Homo sapiens: one gene and its partners. The protein of the gene in region 1 purifies or fractionates together with the protein of each later gene. This does not show direct contact. Each region holds a gene or a part of one and is shown in the gene's direction. Other genes may lie near its edges. The genes, in order: ANO7, ALDH18A1 and COPG2.

Region 1 (3,750 bases):
TGGTGCCCCGCTCATCCTCCCTCCCCTCCTGCCTCCCGACTCCTTTCCTGGTTTCTGGAGCACTTCCCCAGTCCAGCCCTCGTCCAGGGATCCACCTCAGGCGCCTGCAGGCTGAGCTTGGCCAAGCAGAGACCTCTCATGCAGATGCCCTGAGGCCCAGGGCCCCAAGGTCCTGCCGCCCAGGCTCTGCTGGTGCTGACAGGGAACCCGGCCTGCAGGGCCTTCCCGCTGTTCCGAGGCACAACACAGGTCCAAGAACAGGGCCCCTTGGGAGGTGCCAAGCACAGAGGGGCATAGGTATAAGGGAAAGCTGCAGCCAGGATGAGGGTCCGCCTGGAGGGATTTCAACAGGCAGAAGGGGGCACCTGGAACAGCAAGCTGAGCTTGGGGCTCCCCAGTGCAGTTGTGCATGGAGGGCGAGGAGCACGGGTGGTAGGTTCTCAGACACTGCCAGGCACCAAGGAGGAAAGGGGGAGGGGGAGGGAGAGGGGAAGAGGAGGGGCGGGGAGAAAGGATAGGAGGAGAAGGAGGAGGAGAGGGAGAAGTGGGGGGAGGGGGAGAAACAGGAGGAGGGGAGTGGGGAGAAAGGAGGAGAAGGAAGAGGAGAGGGAGAAGTGGGGGGGAGGGGGAGAAACGATAGGAGGAGGGGGAGTGGGGAGAAAGAGGAGGAGGAGGAGGAGTTGGGGGGAGAAATGATAGGAGGAGAGGGAGAGGGGAGAACGGATAGGAGGAGAAGGAGAGGGAGGAGTAGGGGGGAGAAACAATAGGAGGAGAAGGAGGAGAGGGAAGGTGGGGAGAAAGGATAGGAGGAGGGGGAGAAAGGAGGAGGGGGAGGAGGGCTAGGAGGAGAAAGAGGAGGGCTAGGAGGAGAATGAGGACGAGGAGGAGGGCGGAAAGGATGGGAGGAAGGCTAGGACCCCTCCTGTCCTTTTGCAGATGGGGCCCTGAGCATGGGATGTGCCTGAGGTCACCCCTCAGGCATTAGCAGAGCCAGCAGTGTGATCTGGGTCTCCCAATCTCCCCAGCCCCCGGGTGAAACCCTGGCCCACCACTCAGCACATGCTACGTAACCTCAAGGAGCCTCAGTTTCCCCCCACATAAACAGAGCTTACGAGGTCTGCCTGGCAAGGCTTCCAGCAGAGGTGGCACTTGTGGCTGTTCCTGTGGAATCCCACCTCCTCGAGACCCTCCAAGGCAGCAACTATGACAGCTGATGCCAGCCCTGAAATCTCTAAGCAAATAAGGTTCCCAGGAGGACGGCAGCATTTGCATGCGGGTGTGTGAAAGCCCAGCCAAGTGGGCTGCCTCTGTCTGCAGCTCTGAGCCCCACACCCCCTATTTAAACAAAGATAGATCCTGCTCCAGGAGCCGGGAAGCCTTGCCCTGGCCAGCTGTGCTGGGCACCTCCCCTGCCTGCTTCCTGGCCCACTTGCAGGCAAGGTGAGGGCATGCGAATGGCTGCCACTGCCTGGGCGGGGCTCCAAGGGCCACCCCTCCCCACCCTCTGTCCCGCAGTGAGGACGGGACTCTACTGCCGAGACCAGGCTCACGCTGAGAGGTGGGCCATGACCTCCGAGACCTCTTCCGGAAGCCACTGTGCCAGGTGGGGACCCAGCCTAGACGTGTGGGCCACAGGGAGAAGGTGGAGCGTTGGACTCTAGGGAGGCAGGGCGGCACCCCAGCCCACCGGGACTTTCACACACCCTGGCCTGTGGGGAGGCAGTGCCAGGGCCCGCCCTGGTCCCCAAAGCCCCTTGGGGCACGAGGAGGGACACACACTCAGTGCGGCTCTGGACGGGGTACACCCAGCTGGGGTTGGCTTCCTGCCTGCCCAGGGGCTCCCCCATGGAGCAGGTCCCTTCGTTGGGGTGGGGGGCATCCCCATTCTTTCTGCAGAGAGCTCTGAGGAGGGGCCCGCCTGCCCACCACAGAAGGATGGGGGCATGAGGGGCTGCTGGGTGGCCGAAACTCCTCGGGGACTTTCCTCCAGGAACACCCCACAGTCCGTAGTGAGGCTCCCAGCCTGGGGCCGGGGCCGAGTCCTAACACTGAGACCTGGCTCGGGCTTCAGGGTTAGGCAGGTGCAGGCGGCCCAGGCTCAGTCTCTGTCCCTCTGGGCCTCCGCTAATGTGAAGTGAAGGGTAGAACTAGAAGGCTGCCCCTCCGACCTCCTGCGGCGCCTCCATGGTCACACCCTCCGGTCATCGTCGCAGCTCCAAATGCCAGCCCCAGCTCGAACCCTCTCCTTCCAGGGCCACAGATGTCGTGCTCCTGGCCCCGTTTTGCCAGCCCAAGACTAGGAGCCACGGCACCTGTCCTCCCACAGAGAGAGACCCCCGGGGCGAAGGTGCGGGAGGAAGCTGGGACCCCCAAGAGTTGTGAGGCCGGGCTCCATCAGGCCCGCCTTGCTGGGGAGCTCAGGGCCTATGGGTCCTGGCACTGGGTCCTCAGGCCATGAGCGAAGGCAGGCGACTTGAGGGGTTTCCTGTCCCTGGCTCACATGGCTCCACCCTACGGATAAGAGAGGGAGAGGTGTCTGTACTCCAGGCCCACCTTTCTGGGCCTTCTCAGGCTCCACTGAGTACCCAGGCAGAGTGGACGGCATTCAGGGCTGGGGGACACGGGCACTCACTGGATGGACAGACAGACGCCTGCTGTGCCAGGCCTGCCAGACGCTCCCGCCCCGGCACTGGTTTCTTCCTGGAGCTCGTGGCTGGCTAGGGGGTTCTCCATGTGCTCATGGCCAGGAGAGTCTGCCGAGCCAGCCCAGCCCCATTCTACTCCGAGTCGAGTCTGTAAAGTGAGCTCACTGCAGGCAGTGTGGTGGCCCCAGGAACGGGTCTCACCCATCCCCTCTCTGACCCCCATCCCCACCCGGCCTTGCTGGGTGCAGGAGCAGGATGCTGCGGCGACGGGCCCAGGAAGAGGACAGCACCGTCCTGATCGATGTGAGCCCCCCTGAGGCAGAGAAGAGGGGCTCTTACGGGAGCACAGCCCACGCCTCGGAGGTAACAGCACCCAGGAGACTGTGGTGCGACTTGAGAGGTCCTCCCCTGCCTGGGTCTATGCCCCCACCCTGGGCCCAGAGCCTCTGGGGGTGGATGGGCATCACCGTGTTTCTCCTGCATCCCCCGGCAACCCCCAAGCCCTCGCCACCCAGTCCTCAACACACACAGTCAGATCACCGCTCTCCTGGCCTGGCCTGGCTGTGGAGAACCGAGCAGAACCCACTGATGTTCAGACAGGAGCTCCAGGAGGGTAAGGGGGGCCTGGCCAGGCAAAGGCAAGACCAGGGCGGGGCCCTCCCTGTGGTGTCAGTCCCAGTCAGTGCAGGGCCACAGCAGCACCCAGGGCCATCTGTAGGGCTCCACCTTGTCACTAGGAGGCCATGGATGCGCTGTGAGCCTGTGGGGAGAGGCTGGGTCCCGGGCCTTCAAGGCCATGCGGGAGGCCCTGGCCGTGGAGGGCCCTCTTCCTGGTTCTCCTGGGCCACACGTCTGCCCCAGCAGCCTGCGGGTGGACACGGGACCCCTTCCTGCCGCCCCAAGCACAGCTGAGATGAGCCTCCAGGGAGGGCACAGGGCCTCTCACCTCAAGCATCCAGACACTCTCGGTCGCCATGGCCAACTCTGTCCTCAGGGCCCCTTTGGGAGCAGTCCGGCTCCCCTCTGCCCCTGGAGGCCAGCAAGGCAGGCACCCCTGGTCCTGGCCATGCTTCCCGCCAACCTGACCCTTGCCATGGGCCTGGCC
Region 2 (3,286 bases), on another chromosome or scaffold:
GAGTTCGAGACCAGCCTGGGCAACGCAGCGAGACCTCCTCTCTACAGAGATGAAAAAATTATCCAGGTGTGGTGGCGTGAGCCTGTAGTCCCAGTTACTCAGGAGGCTGAGGCAAGAGGATCCCTTGAGCCCAGGAGTTCGAGGCTGCAGTGAGCTAAGATGATGCCATTGTACTCCAGCCTGGGAGAGAGTGAGGCCCTATCTGTATAACAAAACAAAACAGAAAGACACACATTTTAATCCTTCTGAACTTTTTGAGTAGATGATCTGCCTGGAGAAATAATTCTCACCAAATTGTTAAAAGGTTATGAAAGGGAATTTAACTCAGTTATTCTTAATCATGATACTCTTTATTTTTAGTTCCCCATTTGTATTATGTTGGGATTTTGATGTAATTATCACATCACTTGCATTGATCTTTATACTCTCCATGTACTTGAAAAAGAAATAGCAACATATTTTTAAGGGCTGGGGCACCCAGCATTCAAATGAAAATCCAGGATGAAGGAAGAACAAAAGATCATTTCATTGTCCTTCCAACACCAGCTCAGAGTGAAAGCTGGTTGAGTTAAATTCCTTGTGAAATGCATTAATGACAGTAACAGATTTTACTGAGCATTTACTACATTCCCAGCACTGTGCTAAATGTGTCGCAAGCATGCTCTCACTTCATTCTACAAGATGAATTCTCATTTTCCAGATGAAGAAACTGAGGCATGAGACATAAAGTTAGGTAGTATGTCCAAAGTCATGTGGTCTGTATGCTATTGAACCAGAATTTGAATCCTGCTGGTTTCACTCTCCTTGCCAACCACTACCCCAAGCACATCCCGCCCCTACTGTGTCTCGTACTTGCTCTTCTCTCTGCCTGCAGCACCTCTGTCTGGTTTTCTCCAGCCAGCTCCTTCTCACTGTTCAGGTCCCAACCAAAAGGCACTTCCTTAGGGAGGCTTTCCCTGACCATCCTACCCAGCGTGTCCCCAGCTCCACCACACAGCCTCTGTCATAGCACCCATCACTGCACTTGAGCACCACAGGAGACTATTTACTCACCTGTCCTTTGGCTGCCTCGCCTGCTATAATATCAGCGCCACAAAAACAGGGCCTTGTATCTATTATTCACCACTTTATCCCCAGGGCTCAACACAGTGCCTAGTACATAGTACATGCTCAGTAAAGTTGTGATGATTGAGGGAACCCTGCCTCCACTGTATACAGTGCAGAACACCAAGCCAGGGCCAGGAAAACCCCTGACGTTCCCTAGGTCTGAGCTGGGAGCAAGAGAAAAGGGAATGAACAGTAACCCTTTGATGTATTCAGTAACTGTCTAATGAGTCCCTTGTGCTAAGACTTCTAGGGGATACCACAAACATGTCCCTTTCTTTCTAAGATTTAAAGAGTATTTGAGGAGGTGAAACCATCATGGTAAACATTGTCGTACCCCTCAAAACATGCCCAAATGTCAAAATATGGTATGCAATTCAGATGCTAAACTGATAAAAGAGACAGCACTTGTATTAATAGCATTGTCAAAATGCACTGGGGATAAAATACAGAAGAAGAGTCCACACACTGTTTCACGAGAAGGAGTGTATCATGATTTGTAGTAATCGAAGAACATGTTTATGGGAACAGGGTGACTCAGCTCTTCTGGGGAGGATGGATGAGGAGTTAGCAGGAAGAGAGGGTACCAAGTGAGGGGAAAGCAGCAGGGTGGGTCTGGGGCATGGACAGGAAGCAGAGGCTGGGAAAAGCTACATCTTTTATTCATGCTTTTTCACAGGAGCTGAAGTGGGAATCAGTACATCGAGAATCCACGCCCGGGGACCAGTAGGACTTGAGGGACTGCTTACTACTAAGTGGCTGCTGCGAGGGAAGGACCACGTGGTCTCAGATTTCTCAGAGCATGGAAGTTTAAAATATCTTCATGAGAACCTCCCTATTCCTCAGAGAAACACCAACTGAAAAGAGCCAGGAAAACCCGGGAATTTTCCAAAAGGTCTTCACGTTAAACTTGTCTTATCTCAGGAGAGAGCCCGCTCTTGTCTCCCAGTTCCTGGTAGGGTCTGCCTGTTGGAAAGTGTACCTGGATGCTTCTGGGCTCCGTTTGGCAATAGCAGTCTTGGCTGATGTGCACAGTCTGGCTCCCAGCTCACCCTTTTTTTTTAAAGTAAGAAAATAGTTGCTACCGATAGGGACTTTGCCAAGTCCAATTATCTTCTAGGATTGAAAGGTGCATTTTCCCCATAAAAAAGGCGAGGAAAACCCATGGCTGCTTTGTGTCACCTCAGTGACTTACAGTCCCCCTTGGCATTTAGTTGGTACTAGAGCCAGTCATCCTTAACAAATCTTTTCACATTTTATTTCTTTCACATGTAGTCATCTTCAAAAAGGAAAGATTTGGAATTTTAGAAAAGGGGCAACTCTTCTTTTTAGCATTCTCATCAGAAAGTCACAAAAATCGATGGAATCATTTCCACTGGGAAGATTGACCTTTTGTATTTATTTGTGGGGTAAATTAATAAGCATTCCAGATGCTTGCAGCTTCCTGCATCCAGGAGATGCTGTGTTCCCCGTGATGCAGCTGGAACCCAAGCTGCAGCAGGAGATGCAAGTTTCAGGATGTTCCCCACTGAGCTGGAGGAATATCTACAGCAGTGATGCTTGAAATTTTTGTATGAATTATTTTGTCGTCCTACCCTTTTCCTCCAAAACAAAAATTAGAGGATTATTTTAATACTTTGGATTCTTCCCCCTTTTTTGAGAAATAAAGTTTTTTATGAAAAGCCTGTGCGTGATTGAAGTTTTCTCCCTTAATTGTTGTTACCCCCTTCCTTTTCCTCTCTTGTGACCCTCGTGCCCTGCTTGTGGGCATGGTCTCTTCTCTGGAAGCTGTCTGGGGAGACAAGACATCTGCCTCAACAGTGTTTGTTGGTGGAAGCAACATAGGCAGTCCCCACAGAGGGACTCAGACGGAGAGACAGGAAAGGAAAACAGGAGATTAAGCCCCAAGAGCTTGAAGACTAAAAGTGCAGTGAAGGTCTGAAGTTGGTGGGGTCCAACCTGAGCGAGCTCCCGCGGTGGCACATAGCCCCAGCTGACATCCTTAGTTCACTGCATCCCCCCAGCTCCTCCCTGCCAGTCCTGTTGCCTCAGGATCACTTGACAGCTCGGACCCTCCCCACTCTCCCTCCATCTCTAGCTCCTGTCCTTAGGGCCCCTGGTGCCTGACAGTCTGCAGTTGAAAGATTTCATGGGGGCCTCCTAAAGAAATAAGCACTCGCTT
Region 3 (3,650 bases), on another chromosome or scaffold:
ACCATTCCTTAAAATATTAGTTCTCTGTAAGATTTTGACTTCTCAACATCTACATTCCTCTTGGTGATCATTTTCAGAGCTCTGCTAATAGGCTGTGACATTCCAGTCATGTCTCTTTCCTGAACTTGTTTGTCCAAATAACTTAAAGCACTTCAAACTCAACCTGAAATTCAAACTAACCTCACATTCATCATCCACTCAGTTATCAAGATAGAATCTTGTTCTGCTGCCTTACAGCCCCTATCTGTTCTTTAGCAAAGCGCTTTCAATTGTGTCTCCTTAATATTTCTTCATTCTCTTCTATTTTCTTGGTGCTGATTGAGGCTGTCATCCGTTTCAGATCCCTAGCTATCTGACTGCTTCTAGACTCACATATATCCTGCCTATTCTTTACACTCTGCTAAAAAAAAAAGAAAAGGCGGGGGGGACTTTCAAATGTACAAATTTATCTCATATTTAATATCCTTTAATAATAATGTTGAGATTAAACCATACCCTAATTTTGTTTTATTGCCAGTCTCTCCCTTGTCTCTTCTTGCTCTCCAACATGGGTCCTTTGCTCAGCCTTGCCCAACTGTCCAGTAATACACCACACTTTCTTCTCTGGGCAGGGGCCATTCGAACGTGTTATTTTCTCTGCCTCTAATACTCTTATCCTGCCTTTTTCCTCTGGCTAACAGTACTTGGTCTTCAGATTTTAGCTCAAGTAATATGTATTAACTCTTTGTCTTAGTTTTCCACCACCAATTCGGATTTAGTTCCTTTCTGTGTATTCACATAGCATCCTGGATATATTTCTTCCATGGACTTACCTATGATGTCTTGTAATTGTCTCTCTACATACCTATCTTTCCCACTAGAGTGTAGCTCCTTGAGATCAGGGACATGTCTTTTATCTGTCCCAGTACCTAGCACAATTCCTGACAAAAGTTTGGTGAACAATGAATCTTTGTTGAATGAGAGGAATTTTAATAATAGAATTTCTTTTTATGCTTGGGGCTGGTTGTTTGAGATTAGAGCTTAATGACATCAGTGTGATATATAAGGGGTTGTGGTGGGGTGGAGATATAGCTCCTACAGAAAATCTATATGAATCTTTTTCCTCAATTTTTGGAAGATTTTCCTATTCAGAGCTCTCTTGGGCTTGCAGAATTCTATTTATGCTTAACAGTATCAAAGAAATAAGATCAAGAAACACTCAATAAAACAAGGGAGTTTATCTCCACTGAACATGGGGACACTTTTCTAATTTTTTTTCAAATGGTTATTGGTTAACTCTGAGAAACCAATATTTATGTACCATAATTGTATGCTTCATTATAGCTGCTGTGAGTGCTTTGGCTAAATTTGGGGCTCAGAATGAGAGTCTTCTCCCAAGCATCCTTGTACTCTTACAGAGGTAAGTTAAATAATGTCTTTTCTAAAAAAAAATAAGAATTCTATATGGTTAAACAGTGAAATCCTCATTCTACCATAGGGCGGATGCACTCTAAGCCCTAAGAGTAGAGTTATTGGAGCAAGTCAGGGGCAAATGGCAATTCCTTTCTCTTTTTAGTAATTATGTATACCTCCCAATCAATTTGATGTGCTATTGACTGATCACTTCATGAAAGCCCCTAGCCTTGGTTTACACAATAGCCTACATGTTTCCATCACTCCTCACTCTTATTTATAGAGCTTCTCTTCCCAGCCCCATTCCCTAAAATATTAGTTCTCCATAGGGTTTTATTTGCTAGGTACATGTCACATTTGATTTTGGCTTTCTCTCACATGATTTTGAGAAAGTGACTTAAATACATTTGCCTCAATTTGTACAACAGGGGCTTACTTAAAAAAACTGTTAGGTAATTCACTATGCAGAGTTAAAAATAATAGTTTTTCATTGTCTTCATGACTCTATTTGATGAGGAAAAGACTTGCTTTAGCAAACTGTGATTGCATCTTATAATTGAAGCAGATAAATTACAAGCCAAAGGTTGGCTAGTTTACGTAAAACAAATTGTCATTTGAGCAAAAACAGTGGCTGGATTTTGAATTTATCTTTTCAGTATCCTTGGAGAGTATAATACTCCCATTTCCTAATTACAGAGAAGTCTAAGTCTTCAACAGGGTCATGTAGTTACAGATGGAAGAAAAGACTCCAGACTGCTATTTCATGTTCTTGTGCTCCTCGTTATTTTAATGCCTACTTATGTAGTGCTTGTGATTCACAGTAGCAGTATTTCTTTAGTAATTCAGAGCAGTACCCAAGATTTGTGAAGACTTTAGGAGCCACTGTTGGCTATTGTTGAGCACTTTTTTAAAGGTAGTATCAGATGACGACCTGAGCTGTGTCCTTTAGATTTGGTAGTAGAGCTATTGGAAGTCTTTGGGGTACTGTGACATGACTATTCTGTTTCCCCTGGACAGGTGTATGATGGATACTGATGACGAGGTACGAGACAGAGCTACCTTCTATCTGAATGTGCTGCAGCAGAGGCAGATGGCACTAAATGCCACATATATCTTTAATGGTCAGTGAAAGCCAAGGATGTACACTTTTGTTCCTCAAATGGTGTCTTGGAAGCATATTTTATGATTTGCATATGAGCTAACTTCACTAGGCAAATGCTTGGTTTTTGTCTTTGAGTGCACTTCCATTTCTAGAGAAACCTGTGTTTATAGGATATTTTCTAATTTGGTAATGATAATTCCTATGCAGCAATCTATAAGAATATAGATTGGGCCCTTACATTTTTTAGGAACGTTGCTCACTTATTCCTGGTTCTCCTTGAACTCCCTCTTGGATGGGTTTACATTTTTCCCGTTTTCTTATGCTATCATTGTTCCCATATAGCTAAGTTGCTTTCTTTTCTGGGAGGTACATACATTTTGTTGAAAATGTGTATGCTATGCTCCCATGTTTCCTTGAATGAAATAAGTCAGTTTATAAGTTTATAAGGTAATTTCAAGAATATCCTTTATTTTTATATTTAGGTTATAAAGCTTTTGGTTATATTTTTCTCTTCCTTCAGAAAGCTTAGATAAATATTACAAACCTGGGCCTATTTGGATTCGAGGATTGGCAAGAGGTTATAATGCTGAGATTTCTCTATGTTTCACAGGTTTGACGGTCTCTGTACCAGGGATGGAAAAAGCCTTACACCAGTACACGTTGGAGCCTTCAGAAAAACCGTTTGACATGAAATCAATTCCTCTTGCTATGGCTCCTGTCTTTGAACAGAAAGCAGGTTCACTCTATTCATTTTTCTGTGTATAAGTAGTTTTGCAAAACTAAAAAATATTAGCATATTTTCTCTAATACTCATTTAATTGTCACTCTTTTTTTTTTTTTTTTTTTTTGAGATAGAGTCTCACTCCCGTCGCACAGGCTGGAGCACAGTGGCGCGATCTCTAGTCACTGCAACCTCTACCTCCCGGGTTCAAGCGAGTCTCCTTCCTCAGCCTTCCGAGTAGCTGGGATTACAGGCATGCGCCACCACACCTGGCTAATTTTTCTATTTTTAGTAGAGACTGGATTTCACCATGTTGGCCAGGTTGGTCTTGAACTCCTGACCTCAGGTGATCCACCCACCTCGGCCTCCCACAGTGCTAGGATTACAGGCGGGAGCCACCGTGCTCAGCCGATTGTCACCCCTTCTAAATCTTTT

What was found.
Region 2: the proteins of ANO7 (region 1) and ALDH18A1 purify together in Homo sapiens (affinity purification with mass spectrometry, with the first as the bait; one large-scale study listed by BioGRID). This does not show direct contact.
Region 3: the proteins of ANO7 (region 1) and COPG2 purify together in Homo sapiens (affinity purification with mass spectrometry, with the first as the bait; one large-scale study listed by BioGRID). This does not show direct contact.

What each region holds. Positions count from the first base shown.
Region 1 is NC_000002.12:241,187,164-241,190,913, forward strand, and holds the start of ANO7 (anoctamin-7), read left to right. Parts: upstream 1-1,513; 5' UTR 1,514-1,565; coding exon of another isoform or gene 1,566-1,603; intron 1,604-2,893; coding exon of another isoform or gene 2,894-2,900; coding exon 2,901-3,008; intron 3,009-3,032; exon of another isoform or gene 3,033-3,258; intron 3,259-3,750. UniProt on the Homo sapiens protein: Has calcium-dependent phospholipid scramblase activity; scrambles phosphatidylserine, phosphatidylcholine and galactosylceramide. Does not exhibit calcium-activated chloride channel (CaCC) activity. May play a role in cell-cell interactions.
Region 2 is NC_000010.11:95,605,441-95,608,726, reverse strand, and holds the end of ALDH18A1 (delta-1-pyrroline-5-carboxylate synthase), read left to right. Parts: intron 1-1,783; coding exon 1,784-1,965; 3' UTR 1,966-2,786; downstream 2,787-3,286. UniProt on the Homo sapiens protein: Bifunctional enzyme that converts glutamate to glutamate 5-semialdehyde, an intermediate in the biosynthesis of proline, ornithine and arginine.
Region 3 is NC_000007.14:130,550,104-130,553,753, reverse strand, and holds part of COPG2 (coatomer subunit gamma-2), read left to right. Parts: intron 1-1,323; coding exon 1,324-1,399; intron 1,400-2,409; coding exon 2,410-2,513; intron 2,514-3,104; coding exon 3,105-3,230; intron 3,231-3,650. UniProt on the Homo sapiens protein: The coatomer is a cytosolic protein complex that binds to dilysine motifs and reversibly associates with Golgi non-clathrin-coated vesicles, which further mediate biosynthetic protein transport from the ER, via the Golgi up to the trans Golgi network.